2 separate regions of the Homo sapiens genome follow, and region 2 is linked to region 1. The links come from fine-mapping of genetic effects on gene expression. Tissue or cell type: left ventricle. Region 1 holds a variant in brackets; the other region holds the start of a gene. All regions are shown on one strand. Distances are from middle to middle.

Region 1 (8,188 bases):
AAATATGAACATGTTTAAAAAGTAAACAGTGATCTATTTACATCTGTATGCTGGGAAGAAGTTCTAGAGTCATCATCTTCACCTCTTCAATGCTTCAGTCATTGGCTTCCCAGCCTCTAAGCAGCCATGTATTCCATTTCTTTTTGCACCGTTATAACCAGTGATTTTCTCGAATCCAAAATCTGTAACGTTCCTCTGCTTAATTCCCTGCAGGTGCTCACTGTTACACCTAGAATCAAACCCAGACTTCTTCGCATGCGCTTGAGATTCTTCTGGCTGGGTCCCTGCACACCTCTGCAGTGTCACACTTGCACTCTCTGAGCCCTAGCTCTACAGGGCTTTTCTCATTTTAACAAAACTTGCTCTTTCTTGTCTCTCACATGTTGTATATGCCAGTTCCCTGGCCTCAACATTCTTTTCTTCCCCTCTTCCCTCTTACTCTACCCTTCTTAAGTGGCTATTCTTGTCCCTTCTTTTCATCTCTACCTTGATGCCATGTCTCTATAGTGTGTTGTAATTGCATGTCCAACGCCACTTTTCCTGAGTCCACGGGCCTGGAAACCATGTGATGCTGGGTCCAAAGTGAAGAATTGGGGGATAGAGAACGGGAATCTTGTTCACACAGTTCTCTCCAGTACCCAGCATGGTGACCCAGAACATGTACATGTAAGGCATTTGTACATGTAATTAATTAGCAGGCATGTTTTGAACACCAGCTTCATTAGGAGTGATGCCATATTTGAGGCAGAAACATAGTATGATGGAGAATTCAAGAGGCTTTGGACTCATAGCTCTTAGCTGAATTCTGGCTTTATCAGTACTACCTTTGAGGCTTTAAGCAAGTTACTTAACTTTTCTGAGCTTACTTTCTCAAATAAAAAGCAAGGATAACTAAAATGCTTTGGAAACTTTCCTGTGAGAAATTGATGTGTAAATAGATAATTAAGGGACATGCTAGGAGTTGTGTTACAGGCATGAACAGGAACACAGAGGAGGGGACAACCAACACAGCTCAAGAGGTCACAGAAGATGTCATGTAAGCCTTTTCTTTTTCTCAGAGCCTCTGGCATTGACGTGCTTGGAGATACCTGAAAATTGGGCAGCTGTTTATCTTTCTGGAAATGTTTAGTCAAAGGTCTTCTGAGCATGGAGATACAGGAAGTGATCTTCCATTCATGCATATTTATGATTCTATTCTAAGTTAAATTATTAATAGCATTTGACGAGTATTCTATTTTGATATGGACAAGAAAAATCGTTCACTTTGAAACATTTATTGAGCTCGCTTATAGCACACTGGGAAAAAAAGTCTTGGTTTTGTTATTTTTCTCAAAAGATTTGTATGTATTTTCCTGCAATAATAAACCAAAAATAAAATCCATGAAGGATCTAGAACTTTTAAGGCTATGTAATTCATATTTTAAGCCTTTACTGTTTCATAAATTATTTAAATAATTTGAGGAATTACTATTGAAGAGAGTCTTAATCTGTCAAATTGATCAGATTGGATTTATCTTGAAAACAGTTCTGCATCTTTGGATAAAAATCTATTTTATTCCAAAGAAAGCTTTTTTTATGGCAAATAAAAGCAAAGGTATACATTTTTAATAATCTTATGATAAATAGGATGATCTGCTTTAAAGAAGAGTAAGTTTATAGAGTCAGAGTATACTTGTACACACCTCAAAGTCAAACGTTTGAAAAATGAAGTTTGTTATGATTCTAAGTGTAGTTTCGAATGTAAGAAAAAGTTAAAAGTGTGATGCAGTCAGGAAGCTTGGAATATTCTCCTGCATAAATTATATGTGTTAACAGCCTTAGCAGTATTCTCTTGTAGGCCACTTGGCTCCATCTTAAAGTAGTTTGATGAATATTGACTGGTCTGCAAAATTTGACTTAAGAAATGTTGAGCCAAAGTATCCTGGATAACGTAGATATAGAGATAAAGTAATATATATATATACACACACACACACATACACACACACACATATTTACATATATACACATATGTACTTATTTACAGTGTATATAAAAAATAATTTAGAAGAATGCATCCAGAAACCAAATTGAGCTTGAAAAGTACCACCTCACATGACCGCAGGGACAGCTGGTTATTGTCTTAGGATATATTTGCATTTTGAAGTGAACTTTAGTGACATTACAAAATGCCAGATTGGAAAAACAGCCATTATTTAAAAAAAAAAACAAAATATAATTAGCACCAGATGAATGAGTTGTCTCATAATCACCTCATTATTACAAATTAATTCCAAATGAATATGTTTGAACAGGGCATTGGTTTTGAATCTTTAATTTATCTCCTCCTTAGCCTTGCTGCTGACAAATCATAAATAGATATAATTAATGAAAATGTTAATAGTGCCGGTCTCCAGAATATCTCTAGATCACTGACCTTCTGATTGGTGGAAAAACCTTTGGAGAATGATCTTTACAGGATTCCATGGCAGTGAGTTAATCTATTTTTCTCTACATGGGGGCAGCAGACGAGGTGAGTTTCTTCCTCTGTCATTTGTAGGATCTACTGTTATTCTCTGGAGAGCTATTGTGTCAGAACGGATTTGGATTATTTTTTAAAACTACTGCTACCTAGAGGGTAATTTTATTAAATTCCTTTATCATTTGGATTAAATACAGCAAAATGAAACCAGCTCCTCCTGCTCAGAGGAGCTGTCACCACAATCTTTAATATTTTCTTAGCATTATTTCCTTTAAAGTATGCTTTGGGACAATTAATAATGACTAATACTTAAATTTTCACTATGAGTAAAAGCTTTTTGGTAAACATTTATTATATATTCCATGTCTTCCTTTTATTCTCTAATTATTTCACCTATTCACCTAATTATTTTGTAGCTCAAGTGTATAATTTAAATGATGTAGAAATATAGAGATCAAAATTAATACAAATACATTTATATAGTGATGTGTTACATGTTATATTTGTCACAAATATAGCATATATTTGTTTGTCTAGTACATATATAGTATATACAGTACATATATATTACATACATACATATAGTACATATTTGTGTAGTACACAGGTATAGTGCATATATATATATATTTGTCACATATATAGAAGTCCTGTGTCTTCCTTTTAGGTAACATGGGAGAATGTAAGTTTTTGTTTTCGGTCCAAGAATGACACAGATTTTTTTGTTTGTTTAGTTAGTTTTCTTTAGGATCTAGATCCCCCAGAGGTAAACACTAAATATAAAACCGGGAATTAGAAGCTGGCCTTGGGTTCTGCAGTTCTAGGCATGGCGTTAACGTTTTTCTTAAAACTTAAGGCCCAGACTACACAAGGAATCTTCCCGCCTGCACTCCCCTGCCAGCTCAGCTACTTCCCTACTCCTGCGCCAACTCAACCGTAACAGTAGCTGAGACGAAAGCATTGCTCTGAAGTAAGGTGTAGGGAAGCTTTCTGGCTTCCTTAATAAAGTTACACACGATCTTCTAAGCTTGGCGATGGAGGGAGAAGGCACATGGGAGGGTCTTCACCGATCCTCTGGCCCTGACTCTGCCTACCCTTCATTCATTCACCTGCCCCTCTGGGGGCTCTGGGCGGTGACCACTGCCACTATTGGGCTAGCTAGTGGTGGGGGCACTGCTCCCCTTAATGCTCTGGCCCCTAGGGGAGACACAAAATATTGTTTTAAATTTCCAGTAGTGTAGCTCATGGCAGGCTGAGGCACTTACACAAAAGGGTGCTGGAGGCTTTAGGGTAACACAGTAGAAATCATCAAAGGGAGAATATGCGGTAGACAATTTAGGCTCTTCAACATAACTTGCTTGATCTCCAGAGGCCCCAAACTCTGCTCATGCCAGGCTTTGCACATGCCGTTTCCTCTGCTTGGACTGGTCTTCCCCATCATTGCCTGGCTATCTTCTTCTCAATTACTAGATTTCACAGTAGGGGTTCCGCCTTCTTGATTCCCCCGGCCTGGGTTATATAGGTTTGTCCTAGATAGTGCGGTGGCCCCACATATGCCTCCTCATCAACCTGTTTTACAGTTGTTTATCCTGTTAGGCCATAAGCTCAGTGGCACCAGGGACCTTCTCTGTCTCTCTCAGCACTGTATTCTCATCAGCTTGGACAGTGCCTGGCACACAGTGGGGACTCAGAAAATATTTTCGAATGTGTCAATGAGTCCATGAATGAATGGAATTTGGTAAAAAAGAGAATTCTGACCTCCAGCTTCTCTTTATCTTATGAGATGCTTTCTTCACTGTAATCTTGCAGGACTGGAGTTAGGTTTTATTTAGAAAGCTGGCAGGTTTATTTACAAAAGATGCAAATAAACCACTGGGCTTAGGGGACAGAAAGAAAGAGCCATTTTCTTAGACTAGAAAATAATATGGAATGGATTAGGGGGCAGAAGAAGGAATGGGTGAGTGGGGTGGAGGAATGGCAACAGATAAGATGTTGATGGTTATAAAAATTGGGAAACTGTCCAATTCTCCTTAGTTTAGACTT[TA/T]AAAAAAATGAGTAAATTTCCTAGAAGTCAAGTGTAGCCATATGAAAATATTTGGACTAAGTTAAATATAATTCCCTTGGTATTATTGAATTGCCTTTGACTTGGAGACAGAGCTATTCATTATAGAGCAGTTTCTAAGAGCCTGGGCTTCACAGAGATTATCTCTTTTCATTCAACAATGTAATGAAGTAGGAATTATACTTCTATTTTACAGATGAAGAAATAGACTCAGAGAGTTTAATTGACTTTAGGATTGTAAAACTACAAACAGTAGAACTGGCAGCCATTCATTCATTCCACAAATATTTATTGGCAGTATTTTTTTTTTTTATCATTAGCTTTGTCTTTTTTGATGGTAGAAAATGCATTTCATTTAGAACTATGATTTTAGCCCAGAGAAAGTGATGTAGAAAAAAGCACTAAGTTAACTAGATCATATCAGTATAAATGTGAAGCCTCACCATTTTACTCATCCAAAAGTGTCTAGGGCCTTAAGTTCAGTTCCTTTTATTACAACTTTAATATTTTGTCTGTCTTAAAAAAAAAAAAAAGACATTAAATCTCCAGCCCCTGGTATCGTGCTTGGAACATGGTGGGTACTTAATAAATAATTTGTAGTGAATGGGAAAATTGAGAACCATTAGTCATTTTCTATTCAGTATTAACAAAGTCTGACTTACTTTTTTGTTTTTGTTCTGTGTGGGCACATTTCACTGAGTGCAACTTATGAAGGACCTCAAGATCAAATTCATGTCGTACTCTTGGAATTGAATTCTGACAGGTGGACTGAGAGTTTTTTGTCCTCTAAGCCTTCATTCTAAGACAGATGACACCAATGTAGGTAGTTATTCAGAATAATAGACTCAGGAATTTAATAAGGGTGTTGTTTAAAACGCAAATATCACCAACCAGTGGTAAAGCAAACACATTCTGTGTGAATGAGTACAGCCCACTGATTGACATTCAAGACCCATTGGAAAAATCAGGAGACACAAGAGTGGGAAGAGTGCAGATTGGAGCAGCTATCCAAAAATACAGAAGGCCAGAAGGTGGTGAGAAAAATGTCAGACAACAGATTGTGGAGAAAAATAAACAAGCCAAGAAAAGTCCTATTTGGCCTTAAAAGAGGCAGATGGTGACAGGAAGTGTTCAGTGAGGAGTGATTGTGCTGAAAATCACAAAGTCTATAAAATTATCCATCTGTAGTTTGAGGTTTTTGGGGAAAATTAAAACTCTTTGCTAGCATTACAGGGAAGGGTGATAGCACACAAACAGAATATTAAGTAAGTGTGTATTTGTGTCAGGATAATAGAAATGAGAGATGCGTTATTCCATTAGAATAGAAGTTTTGTTTACTTAGAGATTGTGACCAAAATTATAAAACGTGTTTTGTTTTGCATAAAAGCAGTTGAACTTGTATTAAATCTGTTCTTTCCACATTTTTGATGTAAGTAAGAATTCTCCCAAGAATGTTAATAGATTGCTAAGGTAGCAATGATAATTTTCTAACTGAAGGAATGTACTAAACATTTTTTTCCATTAGAGAGTTTTTTTGGAATGGGATATAGAAAATGACAAATCACAATGCTAACTTTAAAGCAAAGAATTTTAATTTGAAAGTTGAGAAAATATAGCAGGGAAAACTAATCATTTGGAATAGTATGAGATAATTTGAAAAAAATATTATAAATATTTTAAGATAGATGTGGTTGAACATTTAGAATTGGGAATCATTTTTTGATAGTTTGGGACCTAGTTTTCTGTGCTTACATTTTAATTCAGTACTACTTACTCCGTGGTCTTCTGGTGGTGTGCAACTTGAGGAATCAAATAAGCCAGGGTTTTTACAACTCTTTTCTAGGTCATTAAAGCATTTCTGCTATGTGCCTGAATATGTCTTTGATTTCATGCATAAGAAATATTAGATGCTTCATTCTCCTTCTTTAGAAGAAATACTAACTGAATATGTTGGATTCTTCTCTATTTTTATTGTTTCTCTCTTAGATTTTTAACCACAGTTGCTCAAGTCTAAGTTTTGTATTTTAAGTTTAGACGTGTAAAGTAAAAGGCTGGGAGCTGAGTGTGTGGTGATGCTTCCTCCTTTTCCCTTGAGAACTGAAGGCAAAAAATTAAATTTATTATAAAAATTTGTTTTACTTTTAAAGATGTGATTTTCCAGACAGAGAAACAAACTCATGTATCGGTGTATTTTTTAATGAATTAGAAGCATGAAATCTAGGTACTTTATGTAAGTCATTTTATTTAATCCTCAAAATAATGTTTTAAAATAGTTATTATTTTCATTCTCATTTTATAATTGGGGAAATGTAAGATCATCAAAACCAAGTTTCAGTTTCCTAAAGTCACACACCTAATAGCAGAGTCAGGATTTGAACTCAATTCCGTGTCTTTCAATGGCAGAAGGGGTTTTGCACATTAGATTACATAAGCCATTGTCCATTGACTCCTTGTCCTTTGCACTTGTCCAAGAGTGGTCCCCAGGCACAAACATGCATGTGAAGAAAGCTCCAGAAGAGATTCTGATTCAAATCTCCAGTTGGGAACTAATACATCAAACATTTCAAAAATCAATCAACCAACCAATCAACCCAGCCTTTATTGTATGGTGGTATTTAAAAATCTAAACTCTATTTTCTGCAAGTTGCTAGCCAATTGAACCAAACTTCTTCACTGGATAATATTTTTAAACATAGATTTAGAATGCCTTTTTTTCAAATATGAAAATAAAAGATATAATAGCTTATTTCTGTGATATATGCATACATAATTGCTTCCCACCTAATTTTTTTTTCACTTTTGTAGCCTTATATGTGTGACTGTCTTAATATCTCAAAGGGCTAGTGCTATCCTCACCCTTATTCTTAGATTTTATCTCTTTAATTATTTTCTTTGCTTTGTTATTCCCACCAGTTTGTCTTCTAGAAGGTCTTCATATCATGTTATCACTTAATAAACATTCTCTTTTTTATTCTGAGTGAAAATGCACCAAAGTATAAATCTGAGAAAAAGTGAATGTTTTATAACTTTTGTTTCTCAGAAAATTATAGCAGTTATGTTAATATTGGTGATATACTTCTCATTGTAGTCATTCCTATGCTAGCAATATTTTTATTGCTACTGTGGATAAATTATTTCATTATATTTTTAACTTGTTATTGTTGGAGTAAAACAACTATTTATTTTTCATATAAATATTTTGTTTTTGGCCTTTTTGCTGAACTCTGAATTCTAATGGCTGTCCAGTTTGTTTATTTATTTCTTTATTTTATCATCTCCATTTTACAGGTGATGTCTAGTTTATTTTTTCTGTTTTTTTTCTGAGTGTACTATATAAATTGTATACAGTGTTGGTACTTTATATTTTTAAGTTTATATATCGTAATTTATTCCTATGCATAATTGAATAGTAGAGAATTTCTAGTATACTGTTACATAGTATGTCTTTTCCCTGATTTTAATGGGAATGGCATTTCTGTGCTCATATGCATAGTCAAGCATTCAAATAACCATTCTTCTGAAGTTGCAGATTAGGTACTTTAAGCATTTGGAATAATTAGTTTTTATTAAATGTCATTTTGATTTAAGATAATTTTTTATTTATAGGATACTAAAAGTAAACTTTGGAGCAGATTTTTAAAACACACATTTCTACTTTCTGACAT
Region 2 (8,188 bases), 39 kb before region 1:
TCTTTTTCTTTATCTATTGTATGTATTTTCTTTATGGTTTCCATGTTTCTTTGTCTCTCTCTTCTCCTTCTGGACACCCATAATCAATATATTTGTTCACTTGGTGGTGTCTGATAATTCCCTTAGACTCTCTTCACTCTTTTTGATTTTCTTTGCTTTTTGCTTCTCTGACTGGATAATCTCAAATGACCTGTCTTGGAGTTGACTAATTCTTCTGTTTGATCAAATCTGCTGTTAAACCCTTATGATGAATTTCTTATTTCAGTTATTGCATTCTTTCACCTCAGAATTTCCATTTGGTTCTTCTTTATCTTTTCTATTTCTTCATAATATTCTCATTTATTTAATGTGTTATTTCCCTCATTTTGTTTAGTTGTCTATCTGGGTTCTCTTGTAACTTGTTGAGCTACTTTAAGATGATCATTTTGAATTCTTTGTCAGACAATTCATAGATCTCCATTTTTTTAGGGCCAGTTGTTGTATATTTATTTTGTTCTTTTGATTGCGTTTTATTTTCCTGTTTCTTCATGTTACTTGTAGCTTTGCATTGATGTCTTTACATGTGACATCCATGTCTTAATGACATGTTCTCCACTCTTAATGAACTGGCTTTGATAGGGAAAGACAGCCCAGATAGAGTTTCTGGGTCTTGTTCCTAGGTCCTGATCCAGGTGTTCAGTCTTTTTCTTTTCTTTTCTTTTTTCTTTTCCTTTCTTTTCTTTTCAGCACTAGCAATCTCTTGCTCCCTCTGGTTCCCATGTCAGTCTCATCTGTGCTCCATATGAGATGAGATAGAAACTAGCTCTTCAGGGAGCTCACTGAAAGGCTCAGGACATTAGAGTCATGATCCACTCCTCCTTCTTTCCTGAAGGAGAGGCCTTAGTTCTATGCCTTCTACAGATCTCTCCGAGCCTTGCCAGCCATGGGAAGGTGCCCATTCTCCTAGCTTTCCCAGGCATCTGGACTATGCCATGTCTTTAAGCACTCTGTAAGAGGCACAACAGAAGCCAGCCCCTTGAGGGGTGTACTGAAAGGCCAGAAATGTTGGATGCTCACCCTACTCTCTATCCCCTGCCCTCCCTACACCAGGAAAGGATTGTAGTCTCTCTGGTGCTGAGTTGTACTCGCAGGTAAAGTGAAATAGCTTTTCTTATCTGTTTCAGTGTGGCTGATTGTGATTTTTTGTTTGTCTGGGGTACTGAAATTTCTTAACTTAATCCTGAACTTCTTATGAAGCTAATTTGTTACTTATATCACTGTTAAATCTGTGTTTCTGTTGGGAAATGAGGGCTGGAACTTCCTATTCTGCTATCTTGCTGACATCACTCTATCCTTGATGTTCTTGAGGTTATTTATGTCTATTGTATCTGTATGGGGGAGATGTATGTATTAGTGGTGGTTCTGGCTCAGAGTCTCTAATGTGGCTGTGGTAAACCTCAGATGTCAGAGATGGAGCCCTCTTGAGGCTCAGGTGGGGCTGAGATCTGCCCCTGCCCACCCACATGGTTGTTGACAGACCTCAGTTCTTAACTGAATGCTAGACCGAGGATGTCAGTTTCTCTCAGGCTGTTTGCCAGATGCCTCAGTTCCTTGCTATATAAGCCTCTCCACAATATGGCAGACAACTTCCCCAAGACAAGCGATGGAGTGATGGGGGACTGGGGGAAGGAAAGGAGGGAGAGAGAGAGGGAGAGGGGGAGGAGAGAGCGCACACACAAGCATGAGAGAGCAATTAAGATGGGAGCTGCAGTCTTTTTAATAACCTAATTTTGGAAGATCATCTCATTACTTTTGCTGTGTTATGTTCATGAGAAAACCACTAAGTCCTGCCTACACTCAGATGGAAGAAATTAAGTTTCATCACTTGCAAAGGAGGAGTATAAAGAATTGTCCCATCACAACACTATATGATGTCATGCTACTGCATATCTCTTCCTAACACTGTATTCAGTGATACAACATTGGTAGTTTGAAATCAGCCATGGTGGGAATATTTAAACCATGGAAATTAGCAAACATTCTAAGTCAGACTTTTCCCCCCAGACAGCTGACATTTACCAGCACACATCAGGATGAATATAGAGCTATGTGTTCACAAAATTTTTATGAAGTAGACGAATTTTAGGAAGGGCTTTGAAAGAAGGAAATAAAATATTATTGATAAAGAAAAAGATAGTTTCTTAATTTAAAGATAATAGAGGTGAAGCAAGAAGTGGAGGGAGACCTAGGGAGTTTAAATATGCTCTTATGGATGCCTATAATGACATGAAGAAAAAGCAGCTCTTTCTTTCTCTTTTTGTTTCTTGTGTGTGCATGTGTGCACATGATTTGAAATGGAGATTGCATACTAAATTTAACTATGTGTACACACATTAAAGACTTGGCATACAAGATTTTTCTTTAATCCAGCAATCAGGATGGGTATATAATCTTTTACATAATTGCCTATGAAGCCACAAACAAGTAATCCATACGCCAGTAAAGTTGATACAGCTGACCTATACCTAAAATAGCTCAGAAATTCAAAGACCAAATTTTAGTTCATTTGAACTGATGCCTTGGTGTATGTAGTACGACCAATAATATGTGAGGAGTGCCACCATTTATCAAATGAGCAGGAATTCACTTCAAAAAGAAAATTTCCAGAATCATAGCATTTTAGGTCTGAAAGAGACAGTGGGAAACCTACAGTACATTATTTCTCAAAATGTCTTTGTCAATCAAACATCAACATCAGAAATGACTGGTCTTCTTTTTAAAACCTAGAAGCTTGTTAATACCTGAAACCCACCCCAGACCTGATGAATTCATAGGGGCTTAAGAATCTGCACATTCTATAAACTCTCTACATGATTCTGTTGCAAGCAAACGTTAGAGAGTGAAAAATCCAAACCTTTTATTTTATAGATTAGGGAAACAAACAACTAAGCTGTAAAAGAGAACCCCCTGCCCAACAAGTGAGACCACATAGTAGGCATGATTTTACACATTACAATTTTTTTTTCTCCAAAATAAAATTTTTTAAATCCAGCAATCAGGGTGGATATATAATCTTTTGTATAATTGCCTATGAAGCCACAAACAAGTAATACATATGCCAGTAAAGTTGGTACAGCTGACCTACACCTAAAAATAGCCCAGAAATTCAAAGACCAAGTTTTCATTCCAAAATTTTTTATTTTGGAGAAAATAGAACGCATATCCTTTGTTCAAAGAGACAGCTAAGGAACAACACAGGACTTCAATGAAAAATATGTTGTTTATGTGTGTAGTTACTAGTCAGTATGCCCCACCTAGCCACAAATTAGTGTGGTTACTCTAAATTGCTAACATGAAAATCTTAACCTCCTACTTCTGAAGTTATTTGGTTTTAGCTACTCAATTTTTTTTTCTAGGCTTCCAAGGTTGCTGTTTTGGGCATGGTTTTAGAAATATAATTATAAGTTTGATTTCAAACTTCTGGACCATGTAATCAAGCACAGACTGGTCATAGTGGAAAATATACAATTTTTAGCTCTGCCTACATTGACAAAAAAAAAAATGGCTGGATCCACATCAATTCAACTTGAGTGCCATGTGTTTACAGTGACAGTTTCTCCCCGAAAACGCAAAAAAAAAAAAAAAAAAAAAAAGAAGATCCATGCTGCTGTAGTATATGTACATAGGGGTGTTTAAAGCCAGCCCCTCCAGCAGCACCTTACCAACCATGTCTGTGCTTTTATTTATTGATCCAATAAGATGACTTAAATATCTAACTCCTTTTCCACGTAAAAGTTTTTATTATGTGCAATGCATTGTTAAACAGGTGAAGAATGAACAAGTTTAGAAAAACAAAGAAGCTTAACATGGAAAATTACCCGCATGGTGTCCACTTTTCCTGCTCGGTTGCAATACCCAATGGATTATTTATTAATTTAGATTTGTGCTGTCCCTGAATCCAAACAGCAGCCTCTTTAGAGTAACATCTGCTCCAGACATTGCTCCAGGAATATAAATCCCGACTAAGGGGTGGATATTTAAAGCTGTAAATGATTTTTTATTTTTACAATAGCTTTGCAAAAGGAACGGAGGTGTCATGTCATCATCAGAGTTTTCTTAACAGGATTTAATCTTAATGCCAAACTAAATCCTTTGTCTAAAGCATCAGCAGAGTTGTACTTATTTTCCCCATAGTATTAAAGAGGAGGGCTGGTGCAGGCACAGCCATATGACATTGCCTTATTTATTTTGTCTGTTTGTTTTCTGGAAGAATCTAGGAATGTGCATAAATACAATTAAGGACAGTATCTACAAATTGGAAGAAAGCATTTCTATTCTCTTAAACCTCTAAATCAAAGCACTTAATGTTCTGATTTCCAGCAAGACCTTCTAATAAATGAAAACCCAACCCTTGGGTTTGTGTTTTGACTCTTGATACAATTATGAAAGACGCATCAGGAGATGGCAAGTGGCTGCCAGTACTTCCTTTTTTCTGGAATATTCTCTAATTCTTGGTGGATCAAGATGGAAACTGGTAGGCTTGGAATAGATGTCCCTTTAAAAGGCTCCACTAACAATACAAGAATATTTTTTCCATACGCAGTGACGTGGGTGGGTCATGGGTGTCTCAATGACAGTAACGTTCCCGAACCCCGGACCTTAGCTGTCATTTCACCTGCGTCGTCCCGGACGCCATTTGGCTGTTGACGTGGTTCCGAGCCAGCAAATAACGCCAGCAGCCCTCCCAGATCCACGCCGGCCCGTCTCTCCGCCGGCCCCCTCCTCGCAGTGGTTTCTCCTGCAGCTCCCCTGGGCTCCGCGGCCAGTAGTGCAGCCCGTGGAGCCGCGGCTTTGCCCGTCTCCTCTGGGTGGCCCCAGTGCGCGGGCTGACACTCATTCAGCCGGGGAAGGTGAGGCGAGTAGAGGCTGGTGCGGAACTTGCCGCCCCCAGCAGCGCCGGCGGGCTAAGCCCAGGGCCGGGCAGACAAAAGAGGCCGCCCGCGTAGGAAGGCACGGCCGGCGGCGGCGGAGCGCAGCGATGGCCGGGCGAGGGGGCAGCGCGCTGCTGGCTCTGTGCGGGGCACTGGCTGCCTGCGGGTGGCTCCTGGGCGCCGAAGCCCAGGAGCCCGGGGCGCCCGCGGCGGGCATGAGGCGGCGCCGGCGGCTGCAGCAAGAGGACGGCATCTCCTTCGAGTACCACCGCTACCCCGAGCTGCGCGAGGCGCTCGTGTCCGTGTGGCTGCAGTGCACCGCCATCAGCAGGATTTACACGGTGGGGCGCAGCTTCGAGGGCCGGGAGCTCCTGGTCATCGAGCTGTCCGACAACCCTGGCGTCCATGAGCCTGGTAAGGGCGCTGCCCCCTGACAGCCCTGGGGGCATCCCGGAGGGGGGCGGCAGAGGGTGGGACTGGTGGCGGTGGGGGAAGGAGGGAGGGATGGGCCCAGGGGTGCCTCTTGGTAAAAGGTATCTAAGGTGGAAGGTGGGAAGTGGAGGGAGGGATGGAAATGGGGAAGAACCCGACTTAGAGCGCCAGTGGCCCAATTTCTGCTTTCCCGTCCCATCCCCCCAGCACCAATCCCATCTCCCCAGACCTTAGGCCACCCTCTAGTAAGTATAGGCTTGGGAGGCTGGGGTGGCGGGGGATGGGGGGGATAGCAATACAGAAAAAACAAATCCTGACGCACGCAACCCCAGCGGTCGCTCTCACTTTGCTGTGTGAAAAACCCAAAGGAATGATTGCGAGTCCCCCGCAAGGGGGGTTGGTCTTCCTTGCTGACAAGAGTAGAAAGATAAGGTGCAGAAGGCAGTGATTGAGAGGAAAGGAGAACGAGGGAGAAAGAGTCATTTATCATGTTTTCTCTAATTTCCAGAGGACCAGTTTATTGGCTCTGTGTACCCATCTCTACCTGTGTGTGTATACGTATTAGGTACACTCGCTGCTGTGGATGCTTGGGGAATCTTAGGGATATTGCCAATCTGGGGTGGTGGTGTATAAAGATACGTTGGTGCCCCTCCTCCTACCAGGGTGAAAAGTGGTTTCTGACTTTTGAAACCAGATTTTGAAACTGCACAAGGCCTTTCCAAGGAAAAAGGAGTATTCCATTTTCTCTGCTATAACCATTTGAGATGAATAGTTTGTGATGGGGTCTTTATTCCAACTGATGTTCCCAAATAACCATCTGTATTCGTCTTTCCTAGGAGTATATTAAAGCACCTTTTGGTTTATGTTAATTGTGATGCATTTAGTATTAATAAAGAGGTATTTAAAAATGTTCTTGGGACTTTTTTCGTTATGTTTCTGCTTAGGAAATAATTTGGGCCTGGTCTTCTGATAATCAAGGTACAGCTAAAGTAATCTGTGCTAATAATATCAGCATGGGATGGATGCTTAATTTTTGTTTAATGACAAAGCAAGCAAGAAAAGTAGGCTAAAAATTCTCAGTGCAGGGCCAGTATAGTTTTATAATGATACGTAAGAACCAAACTGAGAAGAGATTAAAATAAGTGATCAATAGACATTTTGATCTTCAAATATATAGTAGGTGGGTTGATCAAGAATAAATCTTCAGGAAATATTTCTTACCTTCAAATAATATAAGAAAAAAAGGTTCATGTAAGTTTGCTGTCAAAATTCTAAGATCAGATCCTAGAAAACATTTAATATTAACTACTCTTATCTACCAGGATTCAGCATGTAGGATTGGACATTTTGAAACTTAGTTTCATACTGTTATCTGAAGACAGGGAAAAATTTAAAATGTGATAACTGATTTTCAGCTAAATCCAATAACCAAAGCCAAGATATCCTAGGCACAGTTAAAGCTAATGTAAGTATTTGTGAGTCTCCTGCTGCTTACTTAATGAGAACCCTTTGTTACTCTATTTTGTAGATTGATCCCAGAGTTTTTTGCGTTGTTACTTCAAGAGATTATATGAAAGCTAATGTTTAACTTTTTGTTGTTTCAAATTTGGAAATAAAATTTTAAAGTGATATTACAGTTAGAATGTGATATGCTTTAGAAAATGAAAACAATGATTTCTTTGCTTAAGTATCTGGAATATATAGTTCATCAAGGTTTGCAAATCCTTCTTTTAGATTGCAAGCTGTATGAAGTGGGGACCCTGATTCCAGCACCCAGCTCATGTTTGGCACACAGCGGGCTTGAATATACATTATGAAATAATCTACATTATGGAAAAATACTGAATATGCAGTGTGGAAAAAATGAATCCATCAATAGCTGCATAACACAGTGTATTAAAATAAAATGTTTTATTCTTCATACATTCAAAATACGTTGATTGAATTCCTCTTACAGAGACAAACTCGGAAGTGTTGTACAATATGTACTTTACAATTCCTTTTTAAATGAAGGAGACTCTAAGTCTATGGTATTACTAATAGAATACAAAATGTCTGTGTCCCTTATATTTTTAAAAGTAGAAATAAACTATTATAAACCAACACTAACAAAAGTACAAGGTGATATCCCCCTCCATCACCTTTTATGAGCGTCAAGGAGGTTAGAGATCTTCAGGAAACTAGTAAATATAGAGATCTGATCAGTATACAAGTTTGATGGTGCTTGTGTGAATTAACTTTAAGGAAGTTTGGAAAAAGGAAAATGTTCACCATTCTTAAATGGCCTTTCAGTTTCTTTTAGGTTAAACTATTTTAAGAAGTAAAAAGGAATACTTATTCTGAGGTACAAGTGGGCTCATTCAGTGTTTTTTTTGAGCACCTGTATACTCAAGGTGGACCAGGCGTCTGTGAGTTGTGCCTCTGCACAACCCATAGAAGATAACACAGAAGATAGTCGCTTGCCCTGAGGGCAATAGAGAATTGGGAGCTTGAAGAACAGCATAAAGGGATGTGAGGCTGCAAGATCGGCTTTGGGAGGACTGGAGAAAAAGACAGTAAGGTCAGCAGGTCAGGGAGACTGGATTATTGAAGAATTGATGACAAAAGACAGTAGGTCAGCAGGTCAGGGAGACTGGATTATTGAAGAATTGATGACAAAAGACAGTAGGTCAGCAGGTCAGGGAGACTGGATTATTGAAGAATTGATGACAAAAGACAGGAAATGTACAGTTTGTTGACATTTACAAATTCCAAAATAGCTGGTATAGATATCTGTCTTCACTAGGACCCCTGCTTTTGAAAAAGGGCCAATTGTCTTTACTATTTTCACCTTTTAAGTACCTTAT

The links. PIP is the estimated chance that this variant, and not a neighbour inherited with it, causes the effect.
Region 2: CPE starts here. The variant in region 1 is fine-mapped to the expression of CPE in left ventricle (GTEx, PIP 0.90).

The regions. Positions count from the first base shown.
Region 1 is chr4:165,412,735-165,420,922 of GRCh38, forward strand. All of the region lies in intron 1 of CPE (carboxypeptidase E), which reads left to right. Among named protein-coding and RNA genes, the nearest start is that of MIR578, 31 kb to the left of the region's middle. The variant TA/T (reference allele first, on the strand shown) is at 4,505.
Region 2 is chr4:165,374,205-165,382,392 of GRCh38, forward strand. CPE (carboxypeptidase E) reads left to right here and starts at 4,804. Exons shown (of 9, transcript NM_001873.4): 1 at 4,804-5,324. The coding sequence starts at 5,018. RefSeq lists a silencer at 4,837-5,096 and an enhancer at 6,576-7,120.